2 separate regions of the Homo sapiens genome follow, and region 1 is linked to region 2. Evidence: fine-mapped expression QTL. A gene starts in region 2. The other region holds a variant in brackets. All regions are shown on one strand. Distances are from middle to middle. Region 1 overlaps GRAP2 (GRB2 related adaptor protein 2). Region 2 holds the start of GRAP2 (GRB2 related adaptor protein 2).

Region 1 (5,379 bases), 69 kb after region 2:
CCCATAAGTAAATTCACACATGCACACACTCACACACACACACACACACCAATTTATGAACTATTTTTCAAAGGAAATAACATGGTTATAAGAGACAGGTATCATAGGAAGAAGCATTCACTAGAATAGCTGAAATCCTAGGGACAGGTTATTTGAAAAGATATTGAGACTGTGAAAGCAATGTGTGCTTTGGGGAAGTCAAGAAAATCCTCCTTTTTCGAGTCCCTAGTTGCTTTTAAGCCTGAGAAGTTACTGCCAAAGGAGAAAAGAAGTTACCACCAAATGCACACAGAAGTTCAGAAAGGAAAACAAAGGCTAGCCAAGACCTTGTGAATCACTCTAACCAGGAAACGGACAGAGGTATTAACTCACTAGGATGGGCATTCAGAGAAGCAATATAAAATTGCATTAAATGGGATTAAATGAGTTGATATTTGTAAAGCGCTTAGAACAGTGCCTGGTATATGCTGCCCTCAGGGTCCTACATAATTGTTTGTTAAATGAAACTAACAATACGGTATTTCTGATTTGTAAGGTTGTTGTAACATTAGGGAAAAAGGCCTTACTTCTTCCCCCACGTCCAGCCCGGCGGCAGGCCTGGTTCCCATGGTGTTGCAAGAATGTTGCTGTTTGGGTCTCTATCACCAGGCTGTAAATGACAGTTCAAAATCATGCAAAGTCAACAGTGGAGCTTATCTGGAGGGTAGATTGTCCAGTGGTGTGGCAACATGTGATAAGAAGGGGTGGCATTGTATCAGTAAAATGGAATATTTCAGCTTGATTACACAGAGAAAAAACGAGCGCCCTGGAAATGGACTAAATGGCTACCAGGCAAAAAGTGTTAGTCTGTGAACCAGAGACCTGCACTCCTAAAACTGGGAGGATCTGAGAATGCAGAGGCCACTTTGGAAAATGTGAAGGTCTAAAGCATCAATTATCTTTTAGCTGCCCCCACCCCACCAGCTATTTCTTGGAGCCAGATGAGCAGGGTCTGGGAACAACTGCCCGAGGGTAGGGTAGGGCCAGACGATCAGAGAGGAGGATGCATCTGCAGCATCTCTGTTCTTTCTCCCAGGGTCACCGGGGCAACAGCCTGGACCGGAGGTCCCAGGGAGGCCCACACCTCAGTGGGGCTGTGGGAGAAGAAATCCGACCTTCGATGAACCGGAAGCTGTCGGATCACCCCCCGACCCTTCCCCTGCAGCAGCACCAGCACCAGCCACAGCCTCCGCAATATGCCCCAGCGCCCCAGCAGCTGCAGCAGCCCCCACAGCAGCGATATCTGCAGCACCACCATTTCCACCAGGTATCTGGAAAGAAGGCAGTGGGCACAGTACGGTGGAAAGGAGAACCTGCCTCCCCTCCAGGCCTGGCCCAGCCTCTTGAGTTCTCAGAGAGTTCATGATGAAGACCCTGGACCCCCCCAAATGGCAGAAATAGGGAAACTGTTCTTGGCAAAGACATCTCTATGAATTAAATGGCTCCCACCTGAACACACACACACACACACACACTGTCTCACACACACACACACACTTAAACTCACACACACACACACTTCCCCTGAGGACCCAGTAAACAATTGCTTCATTTTCCTATCAGCACAATTCCAAATCTATTCATGCCCCTTAGCCCATCTGGCTGTCAGATCCACAAGAGAAAAAGGCTTAATACCCACAACAGAGCCTTGTTTATTACTTATTTATCTCCCTCCACCCTTGTTCCCGATGGGATTTCAGGCGGCTTACTGAGATGGACAATACGGCCAGATAACATCATTCCTGAATTCCTTAGCAGGGCACACAAAGTCCTTTGTGAGCTGCCAGAATCTATTTCCCCAGCCTCGTCCCTGCTGCCTCCCTGCCAACTCCCCGTGCAAACACACATTCCAGCAACCCCCCACGCTGCCTTAGTTACCCGAATGGTCCATTGCGTTTCCTCTCATGCCTTTGTGGCGTTTTATATGCTGATCTCTCTGCCTGATGAGCCCCTCCCTGGGCAGTCCTACCCCTCTAAGCTGGAGTTCAAGCATGACCTCCTCTGTGAAGCCTTCCTTGATTTCCCGGGCAGATACAGACATTTCTTCTCTCTGCTCACTTACCACTTAAATGTGCATGGTTCCCCCTCTAAATGGAAGCTCCATGAAGCCAGAGACCTTCTCTTTCCAGCTATATTTCCCTTGTGTCTGCTACTGGAAACATGGTAGGTGCCTGATAAATATTTCTTGACTGAATAAATAAAACCTGCCTTTG[C/T]CTTCTTTGCCTTCAGAATCTAAGGTGCCTTTAGACCTTAGGTCCTCCTCAACGTGGAGGGTTTATTGTCATTATCAGTAAGTATTCCTGGAATATACCGGCTCTGTGGATGGCATCTGAGCAAGGCACTGGGGGAACCGGTGGGAGATGTCCTGGCAGTGGGGTGACCAGTCTTCTGTTGTATGTTTCTAGGAACGCCGAGGAGGCAGCCTTGACATAAATGATGGGCATTGTGGCACCGGCTTGGGCAGTGAAATGAATGCGGCCCTCATGCATCGGAGACACACAGACCCAGTGCAGCTCCAGGCGGCAGGGGTATGGGAACTGTCCTTCTCTGGGATCCCTGGGGAAAGGCCTTGGGACAGAGGTCAATGGAGGAGATGAGGCAGGAGAGACTCAAACCACACAGATCTGGCTGGGCACGGTGGCTCACACCTGTAATCCCAACACTTTGGGAGGCCAAGGCAGGTGGATCACCTGAGGTCAGGAGTTCGAGACCAGCCTGGCCAACATGGTGAAACCTCACGTCTACTAAAAATACAAAAATTAGCCAGGCATGGTGGCAGATGCCAGTAATCCCAGCTACTTGGGAGGCTGAGGCAGGAGAATTGCTTGAACCCAGGAGGCAGAGGTTGCAGTGAGCCGAGATTGCGCCATTTTACTCCATCCTGGGCAACAAGAGCGAAACTCCGTCTCAAAAAACAAAACAAAACAAAACAAAAATGCACACACAGATCAACGAGAGGTGATGGAATGTTTGGGGAGGCCTGGGGCTGAGCCAGCACCGTCCAGTCTGTTGATCTCAGTCTGGTGCCAGGCCTTCCCTGTTCTCATAGTTCTCAGTTCTAGTTCTTTATCATCTTTATCATAGTCCTTTACCATTGCCTTTATCATTGCATCTTTTTTTTGTTTTTTGAGACAGGGTCTCACTCTGTCTCCCAGGCTCAAGTGCAGTGGCACAATCATGGCTCACTGCAGATTCAAACTCCTAGGCTCAAGCGATCCTCCTGCCTCTGCTTCCCAAGTAGCTAGGTATATTATTTGTAGCGATAAGCTCTTGCTATATTGCCCAGGCTGGTCTGGAACTCCTGGGCTCAAGCAATCCTCCTACCTCAGCCTCCCACAGTGCTGGGATTACAGGCATGAGCCACCGTGCCTGGCCTGTGATCCATCTTGACTTGTGACTTGATTGCCCTAACACCAAGGGCTGTTGTTTGGGGCATGTTGCCCTTCTGTTTGTCACTCAAGATAAAAATACCACCTATTGATGTGGAGAGAGTGGTTCTCAGGGAGTCTATTGGGGCTTTGGACAATAACATCTGTTGGTAAAAGTCCTGGGTCTCCAGAGTGACGCTGGTGCGTTCTGGGAACTTCTTGCTCAGGCCTGTGCATAGGTATCTGATTTAAATTGCAGCAGGGTAGCCGGGCATGGTGGCTCACACCTGTAGTTCCAGCTACTTGGGAGGCCAAGGCAGGAGGACTTCTTGAGGCCAAGGGTTCAAAACCAGCCTGAGCAACATAGCAAGACCCCATCTCTACAAAAAAAGTTTTTTTAAGCTGCAGAGGGGTCAGCCTTCAGGGAATGTTGCTCTCAAAGACTTGGATGTGGTGGGAGGAGCCAGCAGACCCTCCCCTGCCTGCCCAGCCCACAGCTCAGCAGAGCCTCTTCTGTGCTTCCCCCAACAGCGAGTGCGGTGGGCCCGGGCGCTGTATGACTTTGAGGCCCTGGAGGATGACGAGCTGGGGTTCCACAGCGGGGAGGTGGTGGAGGTCCTGGATAGCTCCAACCCATCCTGGTGGACCGGCCGCCTGCACAACAAGCTGGGCCTCTTCCCTGCCAACTACGTGGCACCCATGACCCGATAAACTCTTCAGGGGACAGAAGCTTTTTGTCTGGAGCTGCCCACAAGAAAGAGGGCAAGGAAAAAAGGCTGGACTCCATGACTATATATACATACATCTATCTACATCTGCCTGTGTACACACACAACTTTTTATACTAGTAATTTATTGGCAATTGGGCTGGTAATTAGTTGATGCAAAAGGGAACTCAGGTGGAGAATAATATTGACACTTGCTTTTCTGCCCCCCTCAGGGGTGTGTGGAAGGCAGTGGGGGAGTTGGGAGGGGGGCAGGGAAATGAAATGGAGTTTTGTCCTGGCCTTCAGCTGTCACTGCTTCCTCCTTGTCTTGGGAATTTTCACGGAGAACAGCTAAGCAGAGACCACACCTCGGCACTGGACACAGAACAACAGGGTGGGGTTGAACTTGGTGGGGCACGTTCTAGCTGACCTGCAAGCCCCGCTCACCTGGAGGGCTTGCAGAGCAGCTCTCCTCCTGTTCTCCAAGGGGTGGGCACTGTTGCATTAGGAATTAAGGTGCAGCCCAGTGCTGCGGGCAGCCAAGCGAGTCTGAGCGGGGATGTGAAGGCAGGACGGGGTTGGAGAGACCCTGCCTGTGCAAGGCTGGCCTCCTAGTCAACACCTAGCTGAGACATTCATCTCTGTTCAAATTAATATTCCTTGGGTCTTTCAAATGAATGTTTCAATGTGAGGAGCGAAGTACTGGGAAATCGAGGGATTTTCCACAATCCCCAAGCAGCTTACTCAGTGGAACCTCTGTTTCCCCAGCTATGAAGGAAATAGCATCCTACATTCCGTAAAGTGCTTGAAGAAGCTCTAGCTGAGAATGCTGAATTTTACAGTCATTGTTTTATGGTTACAAGGGTATGTCTTCAGGGCTCTGTTCATTTTCCCTCTTGATTTTCTCTTTTGAAGATGCCTTGCCCAGTGGCATGGAAAGAAGCCCACTTGATGATAGGAGCCTGACTATGAATTGATTGACTAAACATGACCCCAGGTGGAAGCTGGCTTTGACACCAGCTTCCTGTTCAGTCTGACCACTGCTGTCCTCCTGCTGCCCAAGAGTTGCACCTGGAGCAAGGAACCCCACCATGGCTGTCGCTCTCCATCCCATCACGCTAGAATCATGTGTCCAAGGGCTCACTCTGGAGGTGCACAGCACAGGTCAGCCTGGCCAGGGGCGAAGGAGACAGTAGAGAGGAAGCTCAGGGCCTTAGGGGAGGCCGGGTGCAAACCCGTTCTGCACCAAGTGCACTCGGAGTTTG
Region 2 (5,379 bases):
GAATGCACACTATTAAATAAGAAGTACATATTTTACCATAAAGTTAAATTGAGCATAATTATGGCAAGAAGTTCAGATATTGGCCAGGCGCAGTGGCTCATGCCTGTAATCCCAGCACTTTGGGGGGCCAAGGTGGGCAGATCACCTGAGGTCAGGAGTTCGAGACCAGCCTGACCAACATGGCGAAACCTCAGCTGTCCTAAAAATATACAAATTAGCTGGGTGTGGTGGCAGGTGCCTGCAATCCCAGCTACTCGGGAGGCTGAGGCAGGAGAATCATTTGAACTTAGGAGGTGGAGGTTGCAGTGAGCCAAGATTGCGTCACTGTACTCTAGCCTGGGCAACCGAGCGAGACTCAGTCTCCAAAAAACAAAATAAAACAAAAAACAAAACAAAACAGAAGTTCAGATATAAACAAATGACCCCTCAAAAGGAATTGATTAAAAAAATTTTAAACAAAGTATGGTTTAAAAAAGAAACTTCTCCACTGTGGCTAAGTCCATATTTCACATGTTACTGTATCCTCCTCATCTTGCTGCTATTTTTCTGAGTATCTCATGATAGTGAGTACTGAAATGCTGGCATTCTCACATTAGGGTCTTTATTCTTAGGATCTGCCTTTGCACTCGTTCAGTTACAGAGCTGTTATGAAATAAACCACTCAAGTGGCCTTGCTTCCCTCCCACTATGCTCTACATAACATGTCTGTCAATCAGTACTTACTACCAAAATAACTTGCCTTTGAGATTTTTCTGTTCTGCAATCTGTCCCATGCTTGTAAGGGGAAGGATTATATTCTGCTCCCTGGGGAGTAGTGCCTGGTGCAAAATTAGCTTCCTCATTAGGGTACAAGCTGAAAACACCATGATACTTTCCATGTAACACCATTCAACATTTTCCCTTCGCTCCCACTCCCCAACCATAGAATTTTAGGGACTCCTTTAACCATTTCAAAACCATCGACTTGGGAGCTATCAAAGAATAAGGACTGTAGCCAGAGGATTTCAGCATTTAAAAACTTGGCAATAGAGCTGTTCAGTGTAATGATCCAAGAAGGTCCTTAGAAGGCTGAATAATTCTGAGGTCAAGGTTGAGACGTTATTATTTTTAAAGTAGCAAGATGTTGTTATTTTTAAATTTTATCTTTATAATGTGGAAATAGCAGAGATCCTTTTCAGATATAACCAGGATTTAAGAAAATTTGACAAAGTTGCATTAATAAAAAGAAAGCCTGTTATTAAGGAGCTACAGGGCCGGGTGCGGTGGCTCATGCCTGTAATCCCAGCACTTTGGGAGGTTGAGGCGGGCGGATCATCTGAGTTCAGGAGTTCAAGACCAGCCTGGCCGACATGGTGAAACCCCATCTCTACTAAAAATACAAAAAAAATTAGCCAGGCATGGTGGCAGGTACCTGTAATCCCAGCTACTTGGGAGGCTGAAGCAAGAGAATCACTTGTACTCGGGAGACGGAGGTTGCAGTGAGCCAAGATCATGCCATTGCACTCCAGCCTGGGCAAGAAGAGTGAAACTCCGTCTCAAAAAAAAAAAGGAGTTATGGATAGAAAATTACTTCCTTTAACTCATTCGACAAATATTTACTGAGCATTTTCTGTCACCTTGACACTTTGCTGATTCTTCTTTTCTATTTCAATAAAAATGTTGGGCAATTATAACCAAGGAAAAGGTTTTAAGAAAGTAAATTTTAAGCAAGGTTTAGATATAAAGAAGCAAAGAGATGGAAAAGGATGCCGTTTCACATTGCAGAAAAAGTTTAAATTTTAGAACCCCAAATTGAATCTCTCCTTGACACTCTCCTCTTGGTATTCCAGGGATTAATGCTAGGAACATCCCAGTGAGCCAACATTTCCCTCCTCATCTTGGATCCAGTCCCCAAACTCTGAATGGTGCCACTTAGCAAGTAGCAATGTCTCTAATTTTCTGTAAAAGATGCAACGTTGGCAATCCATTTTCTAGCAAGAGCAAAGAGAAAGGAAGAGGCCTTCACAAGTTGCAGTTGATATAGGGGGAAGGGTGAGTGGTACATTTAAAGGTAAGAACTAAGGAAGTTGAAGGTAACAAAACTCAAGGTCAATGGAAAGTCTTAAATCCCAGAAAGCCTTCAGTCTAAGACTCAACAGAAATTGAAGTCCCAGAAATTGAAGGAACTGGTTCCACCTCATGCTGGACTGTGGCAAACCTGGGGTGAGAATGCATCCCAGCTCAGAATGTTTCTTCTTTTTTTGTCAAGAGTAATATTAGAGGCTGAGTGTATGAACAAAGCATCTTTCCTGGGATTTTAACATTGTGAGTGATCGAGGGTGCTCTTAAATAAGTTCCCCCAAGAAGCCCTAATGTTCCTCTGGATGCATGATTATACTAAGAGAATAAGAGTTTTCCTTAAGATCAGCTTGCTGATGGACCATATCAAGAACTATAAATTTTCTTATGTGAACACAAGTGTTCAGGGGGGATATTGTTAAAACTGAAACCAAGCATAAAGAAGCAAAAGTGTTTCAGTGAACCTCCTGCATTTTAGTTCAACTCTGGCAGCAAGAAAACAAAACCACATAATCTAAGGCTCACGCCCAACTCTCCGAAGCCCCATATGTGCTAGTTCCTGTGTGGTTTGCCTACAGACTGCAGGGCTGACTAGGGTTAGTTTGGAGGAGGGAGTAAGAGGTGGGGAGGAGGAGGCACAGTTAATGGATCTGTAAACTTGCACCCTCTTTCAGAGTGGTACATGGAAGACAGCACAAAGTGGATCCATACTCTGAAATGCAGTAACTCTGATGCTTGAATTTGTCTCCCTTCTTGCCAGAAAGGATTCTAATAACTCGGTGTCAAAGCCAAGACATAAACTCAACCCCTTCTCTTCCAAAAGGTATGTCATTATACAACATCTGTACATATACTCTAGAAACTTTGAACAGTTTTATAATTTGCAGAATGTTCTGTATGAGTTAATTAAAATGAATCTCACTAGTTCTCTAAATATTGCTTTTAAGTCCCATCAGCTAAGGTCTCTAAACCTTTTGCTGTGACAATGTTTGTGGTGATGGGATTTGACTTCTATCAAATGAACTGGGAGAACACTTGTTCCTTACCCAGTCCATAACACAAAAATCTCCACAAACTGGCTTCAGAAGCATCTCAGGGAAAGATTTTCGACCTTGGGATCATGGAGGTAAAATTCCACTTCACCATGGTCAGAATTTAATCCAAATTGGAAGGGATTGGAGGGGGTGGTAGAGGGCTGAGCAGTGATGAATGAACACTAGCACTCTGAGGTCAGGATTTCTCTCTTTGCTTGAATTTCTAGTTCTGTTCGCATTTTTGTTACCTGTACAAAGGACACCAGTTTTCATTCCTTTACGAAAAGAAAACTTTATGTTGAAGTGTATTTTGGAAGGGTATTGTCTCTCTTCGTACTAGCCGTTAGGCTCCATCCCTATGACTGTCTCTGGTTTAGGCGTCCAGTCTGAAGATAGCTGCTTTGTGTTCTTTGTCCCAACTCTTCCTGAACGTGAGGATTGAACATACCAACCAAAGGTTTCACTAATTTAAAATGTACTGTATTGCCCTGACAGGTATACTGTCAAAAAAAATTTACCGTATTTATCTACCTGGAATTAGGCCTTCTTAATAAAGTGTATGCAGCATAATTTGCACACTATTGAACATACACATCCCTAGATAAACTAGGAGTGGGAAGTGTTTTAGATCTAAACATCCAATGGGAAAAATTTCGTGTGTTCTCGTTATGTTATCTGAGGATGGGAAACTTCAGGTCGCAGAATCTTTTGTTCTATGCAGCAATGTTTGTCATAAACGGTTTAGTTCTTTAGTGGCTCCTTTTTGTTTCTTATTTTTGGTTTCGGAAAGAGTATTTAGCAGAAGTTACTCTCCTTTAACAATCCAGTATTTTATGTAAAACTTTATAGAATAATTTTATAGTGATTCTCTTTACAAAACCATCTGCTATTAAATAAGGAACACTGTGTAAATAGAGGACCACCTAAGTATATTTAATTTTCAAATACGAAAAAAATCTGACTCATACCCTTTTTTGTTTTTTTGTAAAAGAGAGGTGGCCCTATATTATTGAATAAAACTGCTTTTTTAGATTGAACTTGGAGTGTCTCCCATGTGGTAAACTGAAATCTTATTCTCCCCAAATTGTAATAGATTTTATCTTTTTAAAAATGACTTTACTGAAGCAGAGGAGAAGGAGATGATCAATCTATTCAATATGAAGAAATATCTCTGTTGCTAATACAATATCCTTTTGAATATCTCCCACATCTTAGGCCCTGGTGAAAATCCCTTTCAATTGTTCTGTCTACCTCGTAGGGATGTTGTAAGAATAAATGAGTTAACATAGATATGAAGTGCCTTAGGAAAAAGGCTCTATAAAAATGCAAGGCGATATCATGATTAGTTGTTTCTTTGACTCTTGATCATTTTCTTCCCACTTCTTATACAAAATGTCTCTCACTTATTTCCTGAAGCCATCTCTTTTAGAACTATTGCTTCCTAGAAGAGCTGAAAATGATCCTAGTTCCAACATATTTATTGATTCCCAGATAATAACACCCACTGGTGTTGATGACTGACAGGGTTCATGCCTAAGCTTGAGTAGAACTTGCCCTTTTTTCCTGGGTCAAGAAAAGTCTGCAATTGTTCGAAAATGTGTCAGTAAGTGTGATTCCATCACGATTTCTTAAATAAGTAACAGTTGCTGCTGGATAATCCTGGGGGCAGATGATTCATTTTTGTGCCCCTATCAAACAAACTCAAAACTTGTTAAAGAATCTTTATAAGTTGTTTGAATCAAACAATAGGGTCGCTAGGTCCCCATTTTGTCCATTTGAGGTATTTGCCCAGCATACCTTGGTCTGTAAAGAAATAGCACAGCCTTGGCTGGGCGCGGTGGCTCATGCTTATAATCCTAGCACTTTGGGAGGCCGAGGTGGGCAGATCTCCAAAAATAAATAATAATAATGATAATAACACAGCCTCATGAGTCTTTTTTTTTTTTTTTTTTTTGAGACAGGGTCTCACTCTGTCACTCAGGCTGGAGTACAGTGGCACAATCACAGCTCACTGCAGCCTCAACTACCCTGGGTTTAGTGATCCTCCCACCTCAGCCTCTCAAGTAGCTGAGACTACAGGTACACACCACCACACCTGGCTAATATTGTATTTTTAGTAGAGACAGGGTTTTGCCATGTTTCCCAGGCTGGTCTTGAACTCCTGAACTCAAGCGATTCGCCTGCCTCAGCCTCCCAAAGTGTTGGGATTACAGGTGTGAACCACTACACCTGGCCTGCCCTTTCTTTTCTCTTAAAAATTCTTAAGAAAGCATGGTCCTGTTTAACA

What was found. PIP is the estimated chance that this variant, and not a neighbour inherited with it, causes the effect.
Region 1: its variant is the best candidate, but not a certain one, in a credible set for the expression of GRAP2 in whole blood (TOPMed, PIP 0.86).

What each region holds. Positions count from the first base shown.
Region 1 is chr22:39,966,967-39,972,345 of GRCh38, forward strand. GRAP2 (GRB2 related adaptor protein 2) reads left to right here. Exons shown (of 8, transcript NM_004810.4): 6 at 1,076-1,306; 7 at 2,445-2,567; 8 at 3,939-5,379. The coding sequence ends at 4,118. Among named protein-coding and RNA genes, the nearest start is that of TMA7B, 9.3 kb to the left of the region's middle. The variant C/T (reference allele first, on the strand shown) is at 2,253.
Region 2 is chr22:39,898,450-39,903,828 of GRCh38, forward strand. GRAP2 (GRB2 related adaptor protein 2) reads left to right here and starts at 2,635. Exons shown (of 8, transcript NM_004810.4): 1 at 2,635-2,881.